2 separate regions of the Homo sapiens genome follow, and region 2 is linked to region 1. Evidence: fine-mapped expression QTL. Tissue or cell type: whole blood. Region 1 holds a variant in brackets; the other region holds the start of a gene. All regions are shown on one strand. Distances are from middle to middle.

Region 1 (8,186 bases):
AAAACATGAAATCCACACTGCTCAGCACAGCTCATAAGTCCCCTTCATGTCTCTCTGGACCCATTTCTGCTATGCTCTGCAATCCATGTTCCAATCTAACTAAGCTTGTTGAAGCTCCTTTAAAATGCCTATTCCCCATCCCTGAAATTGAGGCTTTCCTTTCCTGGAATCAAGTGTTTCCGAACATTTTCATATAATTTTTTTTGAAGAGAGACACACTAAAGTAGATTTTCTTTAGTGCCTCTCTTCAAAGGTTACTGGATGGTAACTTTCTGTATACTTTCTTCTTTTCTTTGCCTTTTGAAAAGGTAACATTGATTTCCATAATTTTTACATAACATAATAAAATCTGTTTTATTTGTTCAGCAGTCTTTTCCTATCTCAGACTACCTGAGATCATTTTACTTCTTCTAAAGGATGTCTTTAAATGCTGCTTTATGCTGCACTATTGGAAGCAAACTTTTTTATTCGTAAATATTTTTTTCTCTCATCCTTAAAAGGTTTTGCTGAGCATGTGATTCTAAGATGAGGGTTATTTTCTCTCAATAATTTGAAGATATTATTCCACCATTTTCTAGCTTTCATTGTTGAGAAGTCTGCTATAGTTCTATTGTTGTTGATATTGCTCTGTAGTTTGGAGTGGAAAGAACGAGTCTGTAAACCATTCTTCTCTCCATAGGGATAACAAAGGCAAGCTTGACCCTCCTTGAAATCACTGACTGGTGAAATTTACTGGCTAAGAAATACAGAAGGGTCATGCAGGGGTTTCCATGTACTGATTACAGAGCTAGGGATGCTTTTAGCATGATGTATCTGTTCCCTTGAGACTGGTCACTGTAAAAAACCATCAATTTATGTACTGCTGTTGTGCTGAAAAAGCAGAAGGTATGTACAGTTGCTTTCCAGTTCAAACTTGGCCCTTATTCAGCTCTCAAGACTCTAAAACCAAATATATACTGGTGAGGCAAAGGGATTCTGGAAATGGCATCTGAGAGTTTGAGGCCTCCTGTGTATTGACTTTGAAAACACTTGATAGAGTTTGGCCGTTTGTCCCCTCCAAATCTCATGTTGAAACATAATCCCCAATGATAGAGACAGGGCCTGGTAACTGGATCATGGGGGTGGATTCCTCATGAATGGCTTAGCTCCATCTCCTTGGTGATAAGTAAGCTCTTGTTCAGTTAGTTCACAAGAGATCTGGTTATTTAAGAGTATTGGACCTCCTCCTGCCCTCTTGCTACCTCTCTCACCAAGTAACATGCCAGCTTCCTCCTTTGCCTTCCACCATGATTGTAAACTTCCTGAGGCCCTCACCAGAAGCCAAGTAGATGTTGGTGCCGTCCTCCTACAGCCTGCTGAAGTGTGAGCCAATTCAACTTCTTTTCTTTATAAATTACCCAGTCCCAGGTATGCCTCTATAGCAATGCAATAATAGACTAATACACCACCTCAGTGTTTTATGTTAGTCTAATTTAAGCTTTTGTGATCATATATAGGTTTCTGTCCTTCCTTTTCAACTAATTTTAAGAGTTTGTGTTTTGACTTTAATATCAAATAGTTTCACAATTCTTTGTCTATGTATGGATTTATTTGTAATATATTTTTAATGTATTTTCCTTCTTGGATCTGTGGATTTGTTTTTAAATAGTTCCATAATATTTTCCATCACTAGCTCCTCTAGTCCCTCAATTCTCTTTTCTGGGTCTTTGGTTAGATTTAATTTTTTTTTTTTTTTTTTTTTGAGACAGAGTCTCGCTCTGTCACCCAGGCTGGAGTGCAGTGGCGCCATCTTCGCTCACTGCTCCTCACCTTTCCGGGTTCGAGTGAGTCTCCTGCCTCAGCCTCCCTGCAAAGCGTCACCACGCCAGCTAATATTTGTTTAGTAGAGACGGTTTCACCATGTTGGCCAGGCTGGTCTCACTCCTGACCTCAAGTGATCCGCCCGCCTCGGCCTTCCAAAGTGCTGGGATTACAGGCAAAAGCCATAATGCCTGGCCTCCATTGTGTTCACTCTGGGGTCTCAGCAAAAGAAACAGCAGCTACCAAGGGAAGCTTTCTGCATAAGAAGAGCAGAGGTACAAGAGGGCAAGCCCTCCTCCTCAAATACATTTCAAGTGTATGATATGCCTTAAATCTACTCACATCCCATTGACCAAAGTAAAGCTGCTGGGATAGACACTTTGTTTTAGAGTGGCAAAGGGCAAAGCAGCAGATACAGGGAGAGGGAAAGAATGCAGTCAATAATTTAATCCACCACACTCGAAAATCCCCAATAATTATAGTCAAGAAAAATGGAGACAGGCAGGCAGCTTAGTAGGCATTTGAGGTGTTTGTGTGTTTCCCCTTACTTCAACTAGTCAGCTATACTTTCAGTTCTCTGAATGAACCATGCTGTTGCATACTTCCGTATATTTGCACAGGCTGTTCCCTATATGAAATGCCTTTCCCTTCACTCTTTTGCCTAGAAAAATACTGCTAATCTTTCAAGACTCAGTTCACATGATTCCCCTAATTTTAAGTCTTCCATGGTTTCCTACCTTGGTATAATTGTGTTATTATAAATCTACTTGCCTTACTAAATTCGTAATTCCTTAAAAGCAAGGACTGTACATTGTAAATCCTGTTGGTTGCTTTGTATCTAACAAGGTGCCTGAAAAAGCAACAACAATGACAAAATGTTTAATGAGAGCTTTTGAAATTATTAAATGGCCATTATATCCCACTATTCACTTTGGCTCTGGGTGTCAGTTGGTTAGTCCCGAAACTGTTGAATTTTGGAACAGCCTTTTCATTTATGTGACAAATATTTATTGGGCTCTCAACATTCCCAGATTTAATAGGAGAAATAGCCATTAGAATACTGTATGCACCTGAAAAGAAGGATGGAAAAAATGCTACATGAGTTTAGAGGAGGGGACATCCTGCTACCTAGTGGGTCAGGGGAGGAATATATGCTATCATTTAAAAATAAGGTATTTATTTATTTATTTATTTATTTATTTTTGAGACAGAGTTTCGCTTTTGTCGCCCAGGCTGGAGCACAATGGCGTGATCTCGGCTCACTGCAACCTCCGCCTCCCAGGTTCAAGCGATTCTCCTGCCTCAGCCTCCCTAGTACTGTTGTCTAGGGATTGTTGCATTTTACTTTTTTTTTTTTTGAGATGGAATCTCGCTCTGTTGCTCAGGCTGAAGTGCAGTGGTGTGATCT[C/T]GGCTCACTGAAATCTCCACCTCCCAGGTTCAAGTGATTCTCCTGCTTCAGCCTCCCAAGTAGCTGGGATTACAGGCACACACCACCACACCCAGCTAATTTTTGTATTTTTAATAGAGATGAGGTTTCACCATGTTGTCCAGGCAAAAATAAAGCCTTATTGCTCTTCTCCCTTTTCCACACTGTGTACACCACTACCACTACCCAACCACAAACGTGTCACACATCTTTCTTCCTCTTTCTAGAAGTAATTCAATGCCCAGGCAATCCAGAGATACGCTGCAGTCATTAGATTGAGGTAGACAGAGGTTAAATAGTTTAAACCACACTGAATCCTGAAGGAGAAGAGGCGCCACTTCTGATGGACAGTGTGTATGGTCATGACTCCTCTTACCTCTCAGTGATTGAGTATTCATAGCACCTGGAAAGAAGCTTCCGGCTCACAAGGAGCTTTTACATACATTTTTCCATTGATTTTCATAATCATCCTGTGAAAGGCTTAAAGGTAAAAAGGGTTGCTTTGGAAGTTAAAGCAAAGCCAGTAGTTACATTACTTTGAATCTGTCTTTAATCTAAATTTGTTCATGTCTATCTGGTTGAGTGATACCATGATAAATATGTAGTAGATGCTTTTTAAAAAAAGGCAACTTAACAAAATATAGCATTAAATAGTTTGTTTTTTATAGCCTTTCAATGACCTCATCCTTCATGGTATAAATTGAACCACTGTAGCTATGTGTCCAGAAGTGGTGGGTTCTTGGTCTCACTGACTTCAAGAATGAAGCCACGGACCCTCTCGGTGAGTGTTACAATTCTTAAATACGGCGTGTCCAGAATTTTTTCCTTCTGATGTTCAGATGTGTTCAGAGTTTCTTCCTTCTGGTGGGTTCGTGGTCTCGCTGGCTTCAGGAGTGAAGCTGCAGACCTTCACTGTGAGTGTTACAGCTCTTAAGGCCGCACGTCTGGAGTTGTTCGTTCCTCCCGGTGGGTTCGTGGTCTCGCTGACTTCAGGAGTGAAGCTGCAGACCTTCGTCGTGAGTGTTACAGCTCATAAAGGTAGTGTGGACCCAAAGAGTGAGAAGCAGCAAGCTTTATTGCAAAGAGCGAAAGAACAAACCTTCCACAGCGTAGAAGGGGACCCTAGCCAGTTCCCACTGCTGACTCGCGCAGCCTGCTTTTATTCTCTTATCTGGTCCCACCCACATCCTGCTGATTGGTCCATTTTACAGAGAGCCGATTGGTCTGTTTTACAGAGAGCTGATAGGTCCGTTTTGACGGGGGGGAGGTGAGGTGGGGTAGTGAGGGGGTAGGGAGGTAGTGGGTGGGAGGGGTGGGCGGATGGGGGGAGGGGTTGGGTGTGGGGGAGGGGGTGGGGTGGGGTGTGGAGTGGGGGATTTCCATATAGCACAGACATAGGGATGTCAAGTTGGCTGGGGTTGGGGGGTAAGGCTTCAAGTCACATTTGCACAGAAAACCAAATGCCCACTTTGTACTGCCACCAATTAGAGTTAATACGTGTTAACTACTTGGATACATAGTAGGTGCTCAATAAATACTTTTATTATATTTCTCAGTCTGCCTAGAATATGGTTTTCTAAGATGCAGAACTTCCTAAAATAGTTGTTAAAATGCAGGCTATACTTCATTAATCCTTGCTCTGTCCCCCAGGCTGGAGTACAGTGGCGCGACCTCGGCTCACTGCAAGCTCCGCCTCCTGGGTTCATACCATTCTCCTGCCTCAGCCGCCAGAGTAACTGGGACTACAGGCACCCGCTACCATGCCCGGATAATTTTTTTTTTTTTTTTTTCGATCTCCTGACCTCGTGATCCGCCCGCCTTGGCCTCCCAAAGTGCTGGAATTACAAGCGTGAGCCACTGCACCCGGCACATTAATTGATTGTTTAACTGGTAATTCTGAATAATTAAGTTGCTGAGAGCTACAATTATAAAAGATTACTTCCTTCCTAACACATCTCCTTAGACTGGATATTAAAACTACTGTTTCCATAGTGGAACAAATAATTCATGGAAATAGAATGAGTTGTGCAGTCAACTCCGATGAATTCATCAAGTGCCAGTTTAACTTTATGAATAGGAGCTTACTATAAGATTTTAATAGTTATCATTCAGATAAGCAAATTTTAGAATAATGGTTGAAACAAAAGGACTTACTTAGTTAAGTTCTTCTCTGTGAGTCAGAAAGACTAAAGCTGTGAATAACACTAAATAAAACGGATGGGCCAGGTGCGGTGGCTCACGCCTGTAATCCCAGCACTTTGGGAAGTGGAGGTGGGCAGATCACGAGGTCAAGAGATCAAGACCATCCTGGCCAATATGGTGAAACCCCGTCTCTACTAAAAATATAAAAATTACCTGGGTGTAGTGGCACACACCTGTAGTCCCATCTACTCAGAAGAATGAGGCAGGAGAATTGCTTGAACCCAGGAGGCGGAGGTTGCAGTGAGCCGAGATCATGACACTGCACTCCAACTGGAGACTCCGTCTCAAAAAAATAAAAAAAATTTTAAAAAAAGGCCAGGTGGGGTGGCTCACACCTGTAATCCCAGCACTTTGAGAGAGCGAGGCGGGCGGATCATGAGGTTAGGAGTTCAAGACCAGCCTGACAATATGGTGAAACCTCATCTCTACTAAAAATACAAAACTTAGCCAGGCATGTTGGCACGTGCCTGTAGTCCCAGCTACTCGGGAGGGTGAGGCAGGAGAATCGCTTGAACCCAGAAGGCGGAGGTTGCCGTGAGCCAAGATCGCACCACTGCACTCCAGCCTGGGTGACAGAGTGAATCTCCACCTCAAAAAAAAAAAAAAAAAAAAAAAAAAAAAAAGACTGATATCTCTATTGAATATCAAAATACTTTTGACCCGACACATAACTCTGAAAAATATGGCATCCTTTCCAAATCTTTTTTTTTAGACGAAGTCTCGCTCTGTTGCCAGGCTGGAGTGCAGTGGCGCAATTTAGGATTCAAGTGATCTCCTGCCTCAGTCTCCCGAGTAGCTGGGCCTACAGGTGCGCACCACCATGCCCAGCTAATTTTTTCTTTCTTTTCTTTTTTTTTTTTTTTTTTTTTTTTTGAGATGGAGTCTCGCTCTGTCGCCCAGGCTAGAGTGCAGTGGCACGATCTTGGCTCACTGCAAGCTCCGCCTCCCAGGTTCACGCCATTCTCCTGCCTCAGCCTCCGGAGTAGCTGGGACTACAGGCGCCTGCCACCATGCCCGGCTACTTTTTTGTAGTTTTAATAGAGACGGGGTTTCACTGTGTTAGCCAGGATGGTCTCGATCTCCTGACCTCGTGATCCTCCTCCCTCGGCCTCCCAAAGTGCTGGAATTACAGGCGTAAGCCACCGCGCCCAGCCTAAGTTTTGTGTTTTTAGTAGAAACGGGGTTTCACCATGTTGGCCAGGATGGTTTCAATCTCTTGACCTTGTGATTCACCCACTTCGGCCACCCAAAGTGCTGGGATTACATGCATGAGACATTGCACCCGGCCCCTTTCCCAGTCTTTAATGCAACATCTCCCAGTTACAAACATTCCACATCATCTCCTTTTATAATTTAATTTAGACTAAAGTCGAAATTTTTTTCTTCCATCATCTGCCATTATATATATAAATAAATAATTGGAGGCCAGGCACGGTGGCTCACGCCTGTAATCCCAGCACTTTGGGAGGCCAAGGCGGGTGGATCACCTGAGGTCAGGAGTTCGAGACTAGCCTGGCCAACATGGCAAAACCCCATCTCTACTAAAAATACGAAAATTAGCTGGGCATGGTGGCAGGCACCTGTAATCTCAGCTACTCAGGAAGCTGAGGCAGGAGAATCATTTGAACCTGGGAGGCAGAGGTTGCAGTGAGCCGAGATCGTGCTACTGCACTCCAGCCTGGTCCACAGAGCGAGATTCTGTCTCAAAAATAAATAAATTAATTAATAATTGGAAAGCCTGACCTCATAATTTCTCAATCTCTGTATTTCCAAAACCTTTTATCTCTACTTCACTTCAATCATCTGTCTTCTCTGAATTGCTCCACTTTGAAGATTAAATCTCAAGGCTTTACCTCTGTCTAGTGCTTTCTACCTGCTCTTTTTCCTCCCACATTCATGGCCATTATCATTGTCATCAGATGATCTCTTATCCCTTCTATATTCTTATTCTTATATTAGGCCCTTTGTGGCTTCTTCTACCTATTTGGCCTAATTCCATGCTTGTACATTGGAGTGCTTCCCTCCATTCCAGCACCTTTGAATCTCTAGACTGTTTAACCTTACACCAACTTACAAAATCACTTCATAAATCTTAATTCTCATACTCACAATCTTCACTTCTTTTTCTTAGAATGCCTAATGTTACTTTATGTCACAAGACAAAAAGTGCTGATTGGACTAGAAGAATTTCTGCCATTTTTACCTCTATTCCAACAATCTTTCAATTCATTTCTTATTGACCCATGACCATATTCCTCCAAGAATGCTTAGAAAGGATTTTTCTCTCCTCTCCAGTCTCCCAGTCCCACTGTGGCCTCTTTCAGGCCCAGTGGAAGCTTTTCCATTTCATTTCTACGGTCATAACCAATAAACATAGGCTATTCATCATTGGGGCATCTTTATGAAGAAAATATGTCTACTGACACCTCTTCTTTGTTCTGCTGTACATAATGGTGATCAGGACTCAGGGTCATTAGTGAGTGAGGGGAAGAGGAGGACATGGGCTGGTTTGTTTGAAAAATTCCCCAGTGTAGCAGGCACTGTTGACACACTGTCCAGAACCATACCTTCCGTGCAAGCCAGCAGGTTTTCTGACAGCTAGTTACTGCATTTGCATCAGAGAGCTGCCCTCAGACTTGGCTGGAGAACATGGCAAGCCAGAAGTACCCACAAATTGATGGTCTCCAGGAACAGACCTGAACCAGTGACTCACTTGTATGGGGTCACAACACAGCTGTCATCATGCCCTCAATAGAAT
Region 2 (8,186 bases), 38 kb after region 1:
GTTCAGAATGAGGAAATACTTGAAGTGTAAAAACTTATTACTAATCATTGTTTCTCAATTTTGACTTAAGGGCTATTTGTTCAGAATAAAATATATGGAACTAAGGCCAAGAATTTGTATGTTTACCTAATGTGACTTGTGTTTGCCAATGTTTGAGAACCTCAGTGTTTGTCAAGAGGCCTAGGAATTCATAAACATAACAAAAGTAACTGGCTTTACCTTAACCTAATATGCCAACTCCCAAAATTATGCCAAACTTGCTTTACTTGTCATCATAGCACTTAATACCCCCCAACATTATATATTTTTGTTTCATTTTTGACACATAACAATTTTACTTATTTATGGGATATGGTGATATTTTAATGTTATTTAGCAAAACCATCACCTCATGTATTTACCATTTCTTTGTAGTGAGAACAACCAAAATCTTTTCTAGCCATTTTGAAACAATGTTGTTAACCACAGTCATCCTACTGTGCAATAGACCGCCAGAATTTATTCCTCCTAACTGTAACTTTGTACCCACTGATTAATCTCTTCTCAGCCTCTGATAACCACCATTTTATTTCCCACTTCTATGAGATCAACTTCTTTGGATTCTACACCTGCATGAGATCATGTGATATTTGTCTTTCTGTGCCTGGCTTATTTCACTTAATGTTCTCCAGGTCCATCTATGTTGCCACAAATGACAGGATTTCATTCCTTTTAATGGCTGAATAGTATTCCATTGTATGTATATACCACATTTTCTTTATCCGCTCATCCACTGATGGACACTTAGGTTGATTCCATATCTCGGCTCTTATGAACAGTGCTGCAATAAACATGAGAGTGCAGATATCTCTGCAACATACTGATTTTACTTCCTTCAGATATATACCCAGGCGTGGGATTGTGGGATCATATGGCAGTTTTGTTTTTAATTTTTTGAGGAACCTCTATACTGTTTTCTATAATGGCTAGAGTAATTCAAATTCTTTTGTTTATTTATTATTTTTTTGAGACGGAGTCTCGCTGTGTCACCCAGGCTGGAGTGCAGTGGTGTGATCTCGGCTCACTGCAGCCTCTGCCTCCCAGGTTTAGCTGGGACTACAGGCATGTGCTGCCATGCCTGGCTAATTTTTTTGTATTTTTAGTAGATAAGGGGTTTCAGCATGTGGGCCAGGATGGTCTTGACCTCCTGACCTCGGGATCCGCCCACCTCAGCCTCCCAAAGTGCTGGGATTACAGGCGTGAGCCACTGCATCTGGCCAGTAATTTACATTCTTACCAACAGTGTATAAGTATTTCTCTCCACATATGCATGGGCATGTTATTTTTTGTCTTTTTGATAATAGCCATTCTAACAGGTATGAGGTGATATCTCATTGTGGTTTTGATTTGCATTTCCCCTATGATTATTTTTATTTATTTTTAATTTTTTAAAAATGTATGTATTTGTTTTTGAGAGTCTTGCTCTGTCACCCTGGCTGGAATGCAGTGGTGTGATCATGGCTCACTGCAGCCTCAAGCTCCTGGGCTCCAGTGATCCTCCCACCTCAGGCTCCTGAGTAGCTAGGACTATAGGTGTATGCCACATTGCCCAGCCAATTGTGATTTTTTGTAGAGACAGGGTTCTGCCATGTTGCCCATGGCTGGTCTTGAACTTCTGGGCTCAAGCAATCCACCTGCTTGGCCTCCCAAGGTGTGGGATTACAGGTGTGAGTCACTGTGCCTGGCTGAGCATTTTTTCATATATTTGTTAGTCATCATCATGTTTTCTTTTGAGAAATGTCCATTCAGGCCTTTTGCTCATTTTTAAATTGGATTTTTTTTTTTTTTTTTTTGGCTATTGAGTTGACTTCTTCATATACTCTGGATATTAACCCTTTGTCAGATATATAGTTTGCAAATATTTTCTCCCATTCTGCAGGCTGTCTTTTCACTCCGTTGATTATACATATTATGTATTTACTTATCTTTCATTGTCCACCTACCCCACTATATAGAGTTTAACTTGGATATTTTCCCAAAGTGTTAAAAAGAAAGATGGAAAATGGGAGCCAGAAATAGAAAGCCCACTGAGTACTACAGTTATCACTGAGAAAGAAGAATGAAAGTTATTACTGAAAAATAAAACTGAAGAAACCTCTCAGATGGGCCTGGTGCCTGGGTCCATGGGGACAAAAGTGGAACATCAGTCTAGCAGTCTAGTCTGGTGCTGGGGAAGACCTAAAGCCTGATTCTTCAGAGGCCATCATGGAGGCTGGGTTTGTGGGTGGTAGCCTGTAGGCTAGGCCCTCTGGGGTAGTTCTGGTGCCAGGGTCTACTGGGGTAGACCTGGACCTTGGGTTTGTTGGAGCAGGCCTGGAACCTGGGTTCACTGGAACCTGGGGCTGTAGGGACCAGCAGTCAGTGGACCTAAAGCCTATATCCACTGGTGCCAACCTGGAGACTGGGGCTGTAGGGCCCAACCTGGTGTTGGAGCCTGGTGCCTGAAACTATGGGGACCAACATGGGGAATGGAGTGGGCATAGATCTAGGCGCCATGGAGATTAGCCTAGCATTGGGGTGATCTTGGAGTCTCAGTGAAATGGCTCAGTGATCTTGGAGTCTCATTTTATAACAAACTAGAATTAAATACAGTACTTCTAATAATGACTTCTTCCAATTAGTCCAAACTGGGCTCCCACTTATTCCCTATCATACACATCTCCGTATCGTAAAACTATCCTCCCTGTTCGGCGCGTTGGCACATTCTGTTCCTCCGACTAGAATATTCCCTGTACTTATTCAAATCATACCTATGACCACTGCAGAACTCCAGGAACATGACCATCCCATCTAAACCCCTGCGTTCAGAGACTTGACCAAACTCTAGCAAGCTTTAGCAGCATAAGGCCCTGTGCCCAGGGCGACTGCCTCAGAAAGCTTAACTACGTGATGTAACCAGCACACAACTGATGATAGGTCTCTGACATCCCTTTCTTAGAACGTTTACTAAAGGGCTTGCAATTGTAAAGACTTATTTCTTGCCACTCAGAAGTTCTCTCTCAAGGACCAGAGAGTCATTCCTTTGAAATGTAATCGAGAAGGATAAAATCCTCCGTAGGAGGATAGAATCCTGCGGTAACTGTTAAAACGCGCGCACACACAAACACACAGCTGGCCTAATCACATTTACACTAACAACTCTGTAGGTTCACTTTCTCTACTGAGCGCCCGCATATCCCCTTTCTCCTTTTAAAACGTCCCTTTAAAAATGCCCAGATGATCTCTGCACGAATCGAAATAGAGCTCAGCTCTTTCCTGTCAGTAGTTAACTGAATGTTTTCACCGCTTTAACGTCCAGCTGCGCTTATCTTTGACATCGACTACCTAAGGTCTACCTTTAGTCCCACGACTCTGACAAAATGATCTCAATATTGGTGTAAAATCACCTCCCCTTTCAAGGGTCTTCCAAAGCACTTCCTGTCTGCGGCATACAAAATGTATTGGCACGGAATTTTAAGCTTACTGAGCTTTATAAACACGTCACATTCACACATTCAAGACACACACTGGATATTCGGATAAAAACAAACAAACAAAAAACTGGCTAAATACCCATTCCCCTCAATAACTTGGATAAGATACCTAAAAAAGGTCGACCTTCGGTACCTTTCTGTCTTCTCCCCTCTCGCTATTTGCCTACACTGGCTTCCTCACCTCCACTTTTTCTCACGTTTATCTGAGCGAAAACAAGCACGGTTCGGCAGCCTCCTTTCCCAGCCCTACCTTTGTGCTGCAAAAGCGAAAATTCAAAAGCCAAGTACAATAGGAGACCGCCCACCCTGGCTCCCTCGTGACACGAGGGAGCGCGAAGCGGAGGGCGCCTCGCGGCAGGAGCGGGATTTCCGGGGTCACGGGAACCGGCAGGGGAACGGGATAAAGTTCCCGGAGAAAGGAAAGGAGAGCGTGGGATAGTAAAAGAGAAGACGCGGAGAAGAGGAGAGGACCTACAAGAACGGAGGACAGGGGCGCACGATGGTCCCGGGGGGAGCGGAAACAAAGGCACGCAAAACGGAAAAGCGTGTGTAGGGGAGCGGAAAAGGAAGTCACCACCGTGGCCTGCGACGGTAAGTGGTCGTAAGGGTTGGTCTTAGCGCTTCAGTTTAGTGTTGTCAGTGGGAGAATCCTAAAATGTCGCCGTGGAATGGACTGTACCGCTCGCTTCTCCAAACGTGTCCCAGACGGCGAGCCTCCCCGGCTCCGCGGCTTGTCCCTTGCAAGCGCCGCGCAGGCCTGCCCCGCGCTGGACGTGGAGACGCGGTGCCGAGCGCCACGGGCCGGCTGTGCGCCGGCCGGGGAAAGAGGGCGAGGGGAAGAGATGAATCGGTCTTCCCAGAGCGCGCCGCGAGGTCGCGAGATTACACTTTAAAAAGCATGAGGAGGCTTGCTTTCTACATGCTGATTTAATTTCGGAATACATTCGAGGCCCTGTGCTAAGTTAGGTAATGTTCCCTATAATTGTCTTTTATGTATAAGTTGTCTTGCCTAACTAAAACTTTTCTTACTTGTATCGTGCAGCCAACTTTTCAAGAACGAAAGATGAGCAACTCCTTTCTGGTAGAGGTTCTTTCATTGGAGAATTTTTGAGCTACAATAATCCTTTTAACGCTGCGCACACATACAGGGATTACACGTGTAGGGGATTAAAAACACAGTTAAGTTTAGGTTGAAGGTGCTGTTAAGGACTTCAGGCAACATTAAATCAACACTCAGTTCTTTGCTCTGTTCCACATCTGGGCTCCTGTATAGCAGTTGTTGCTCTAGGTGCTAGAGGTATGCAGAGGAACTGGACAAGGGCAAGGAAAACAAAGGGCTCCTTCTTTAGAAGAGCTAGCATTCTCTTGGAACAGACAAGCTTGTGGTGAGAAGTATATTTGTGAAATCTACGAGGGGAGGGAGCAGCGCAGTAATAGAACGGGCGATCCTTTCTTGATTTTTTATTGGGTTCTGGCCTGAAAGGCGACTGTATAATCAGCTGGGATTCCTGCAATGATTAACATTCCAGGAAGGGAAGCCAGCCTGTGAAGAAGCATGGCATTGAAACAGGGTGAGTTGTGAGGATTATAAACAGGGTAGTTGGAGAGTTGATTTGTGGCCAGATTCTTAAGCCCCTGTTTAGTCTTAAGAATATTATCTTTAGGCACTGCAAATGCCCTCTTGCAGCTAAGACTAATGGGAAGAACTGGTTAAAAAACTAATTACAGCAAAGAGTGAGTGAGAGTGGTGATGAGAGATACAGATGTTCTGAGAGCAGACAATAAGGGGACTTTATGTAGTCCTATGTTAGAGGAGATGATTTGAAGTTACTCTGAGGAAGACAAAAATGTAACAGGTAGATCGCATATGCGAAAGCTTGAGATGGCGAAAAAATCAAAAGGATTTCAGGAACTGAAAGTTGTGCATTTTGGCTGTGTGAGGGAGAGAGTTGTGGGTGGCATGTAATGAACCTTGAAAGGTAGTTTATGTTATGACAGCCTACAACCGAATCAGAACTTTTACAAACAGGCGATATACAGACAGTCTGAAATCAAATGCTTCTGATTTCTATTACGTGCTCTAGGCTAATTGTTTTCTTTTTAAGTATGAGTTTGCGTTAGTCTTCTGGATTTAGTGATTACAGTATAAGGTGAAACAGGTAAAGGCTTTTAGAGAACATCTCACTTATTTCCTGTGCACTAAAGGGAAACAGATCACCTTTGCAGAACTTGAAAAAAATGGGAAGTGCGACCTTTGATCTCAGATGGACTTTCTTTCCTCTTTTCAGTGGCTTGGTAGTGAGCTTGTTCAGCTCCACTGAATCTTCTTTGTGGTGGGGCTGCAAGACATCCTGCATGGCAAGTTTTAAACATAAGTTTTACCCCGAAGAAAGCTTATAAAATTGTAAATGCTTCAGAACCTTTTCATCTTCCTGTGATTCTGGAAGAAATCCAAAAAAAACCAATCGTTTAACTACATACTTCTACAGAACCTGAATCTTAAGCTTTGTTCACTTTATACTATTAGATACTATAGTAGGTTAATAATGACTAACACCTTGTCATCTCATCACTGAGCTTTTGTCTAAGATAGTCTCTGAATTTAGAACTGGGACGAAAGTGTACATAATAGGCTATTATAAAATTTTTAGAATTGGATTTCTAAACTTGGGGTCAGTGAATCTAGCAGGCTTAAGCAGTGTTCTCAGGTTTTTCTGGCACAGACAAGGAATATAAGAGGAGGAGAGAAAAGGAGAGACAGTAGTGGGAGGGAATAGAATGAGAGAAGATAGAAAATATGGAATTAATAGAGAAAGGATACATGAAGTATTACAAGATTTTCTTGGAAAAATTGGCATTTCAGTGATGGATCAAAGATGTCTAATGAGGCAAAATACTACTATTACTTAAATATTTAATGTTTTAAAGATTTGAGGATAAAAGGATATAGATCTGATGGCGTTCATACTAATTGCTGTAGTGTTGATGTTGGAGAGAGGGGTAATGTATCAAGACAGAGCAGACAGACCCTTTACAATGAGAGCAGAAGATATGTTGTTTACTGATTCTACTTTCCCACAAAATGCTAATGCTTTTATAAGTCCCTCCTCCTTATTTTCTAGATTAACTCCTTGTTTCTTCCTCTAAACAGAGGATTATGGCAGACAGGCAAAAAAAAAAAAAACTTTTAAAGCAACTATCTAAGTCCTTACCAAGTTTCTTTAGCACTTTTATTCTAAAGTTATCAAGGTGGAAATTGGGGCCTCTGCCCCACATGTATCTGCTTCATTGGGTTGTATCTTCATACCTGATTAACGGCATATTCTAGGCAAAAGCAAGACCCTAGGCATGCTATGTTTGGCTCTGAATATGTAGGCCTCCCAGGTTTATTAGCTGAACTGGTACATGACCTTGACAGCTTATTTTCCCTAGACTAGAAGCATTCCTAAGGAACCCTGAGCTCTAGGCTATTTGGCCTTCTTAGAATGGGACACTTCCCAAATTGAAGGCAGCCCTAGGTTGCAGAGAGGAGAGAGGAGGGAGAAAGGGAGAGAGGGAGAAAGCAAGTTCCCTTCATCCTCAGTAAATAGAATGAAGAAGGGAAGGACACAGTGAGTCAAGTCTTATCTCAATACCTACTGGGTAAATTGCCTCTCATTCTGAGAAAGTTATAGAAAATGCATCAGGTTATCCTTAACTCACACCTAACAGTCTTGTGAGAAAATCTGTTCAAATAGTTAAAGTAGGAAGAATACTACTAACTAGACCCTTATACGATATGTATTATATGTAGATATGTAGAATGACTTTGTATTGTCTATTAACCTCATTTCTTAAAAAGTGTCAATATTTTTATTAGTGATCCAATAGAGATTATGTTGCATATAAACCCATTTTGTAAATATGAATAAAACCAGACAAGGAGCTCTTGCCTTCCCTTTCTGAAGAGGAGCAGAGATTCCTCAGCTAGGAGTGATGGAGAAGGTGTGGCTCTTTGGCAAGCTGACCAGAGGCCAGTGAAAGATTATTTATTTATTTGGCTGACTATGATACCCTCACTTGTAGCCACACCCCCTGGGTTTGCATTTTTTAAAAACCCCAACAGTGAAATAGTTCTTTTTTCTTTTTCTTTCTTTCTTTTTTTTTTTTTTTGAGACAGAGTCTCTCGCTCTGTCACCATGGCTGGAGTGCAGTGGTGTGATCTTGGCTCACTGCAATTTCCGTTTCCTGGGTTCAAGTTATTCTCCTGCCTCAGCCTCCTGAGTAACTAGGATTAGAGGTGTGTGCCACTACACCTGGCTGATTTTTGTATTTTTAGTAGAGATGGGGTTTCGCCATGTTGGCCAGGCTGGTCTCAAACTCCTGACCTCAGGCGATCTGCCCACTTTGGTCTCCTAGAGTGCTGGGATTACAGGCATAAGCCACCGTACCTGGCCTGAAATAGTTCTTTTTTTCTTATTTTGTAAATATAGATATTATCTTTAGTTTAGAAAATGATGACTAGGTACCATAATACCTATATAGTAATAACCACATTATGTGTCATTTAGTTCCACAAAAATTTAATGTAAAATTCTGCGTTAAGAGCTGTAAGATGCAGTCCCTGTCCTGATCACCCCTAAAATGCTACAGCTTATCTCGTATGTACCTTTCTGTTATGTTTTCTGGTTGTGC

The links. PIP is the estimated chance that this variant, and not a neighbour inherited with it, causes the effect.
Region 2: it holds the start of ECHDC1, and the variant in region 1 is fine-mapped to the expression of ECHDC1 in whole blood (INTERVAL, PIP above 0.99).

Annotation. Positions count from the first base shown.
Region 1 is chr6:127,376,833-127,385,018 of GRCh38, reverse strand. No RefSeq gene overlaps it. Among named protein-coding and RNA genes, the nearest start is that of ECHDC1, 37 kb to the right of the region's middle. The variant C/T (reference allele first, on the strand shown) is at 3,209.
Region 2 is chr6:127,339,253-127,347,438 of GRCh38, reverse strand. It overlaps ECHDC1 (ethylmalonyl-CoA decarboxylase 1), which reads left to right and starts at 3,830. Exons shown (of 6, transcript NM_001002030.2): 1 at 3,830-4,103. It overlaps LOC105377994 (a long non-coding RNA gene), which reads right to left. Exons shown (of 4, transcript XR_001744334.2): 4 at 5,780-5,952. RefSeq lists enhancers at 1,924-2,797, 3,672-4,545.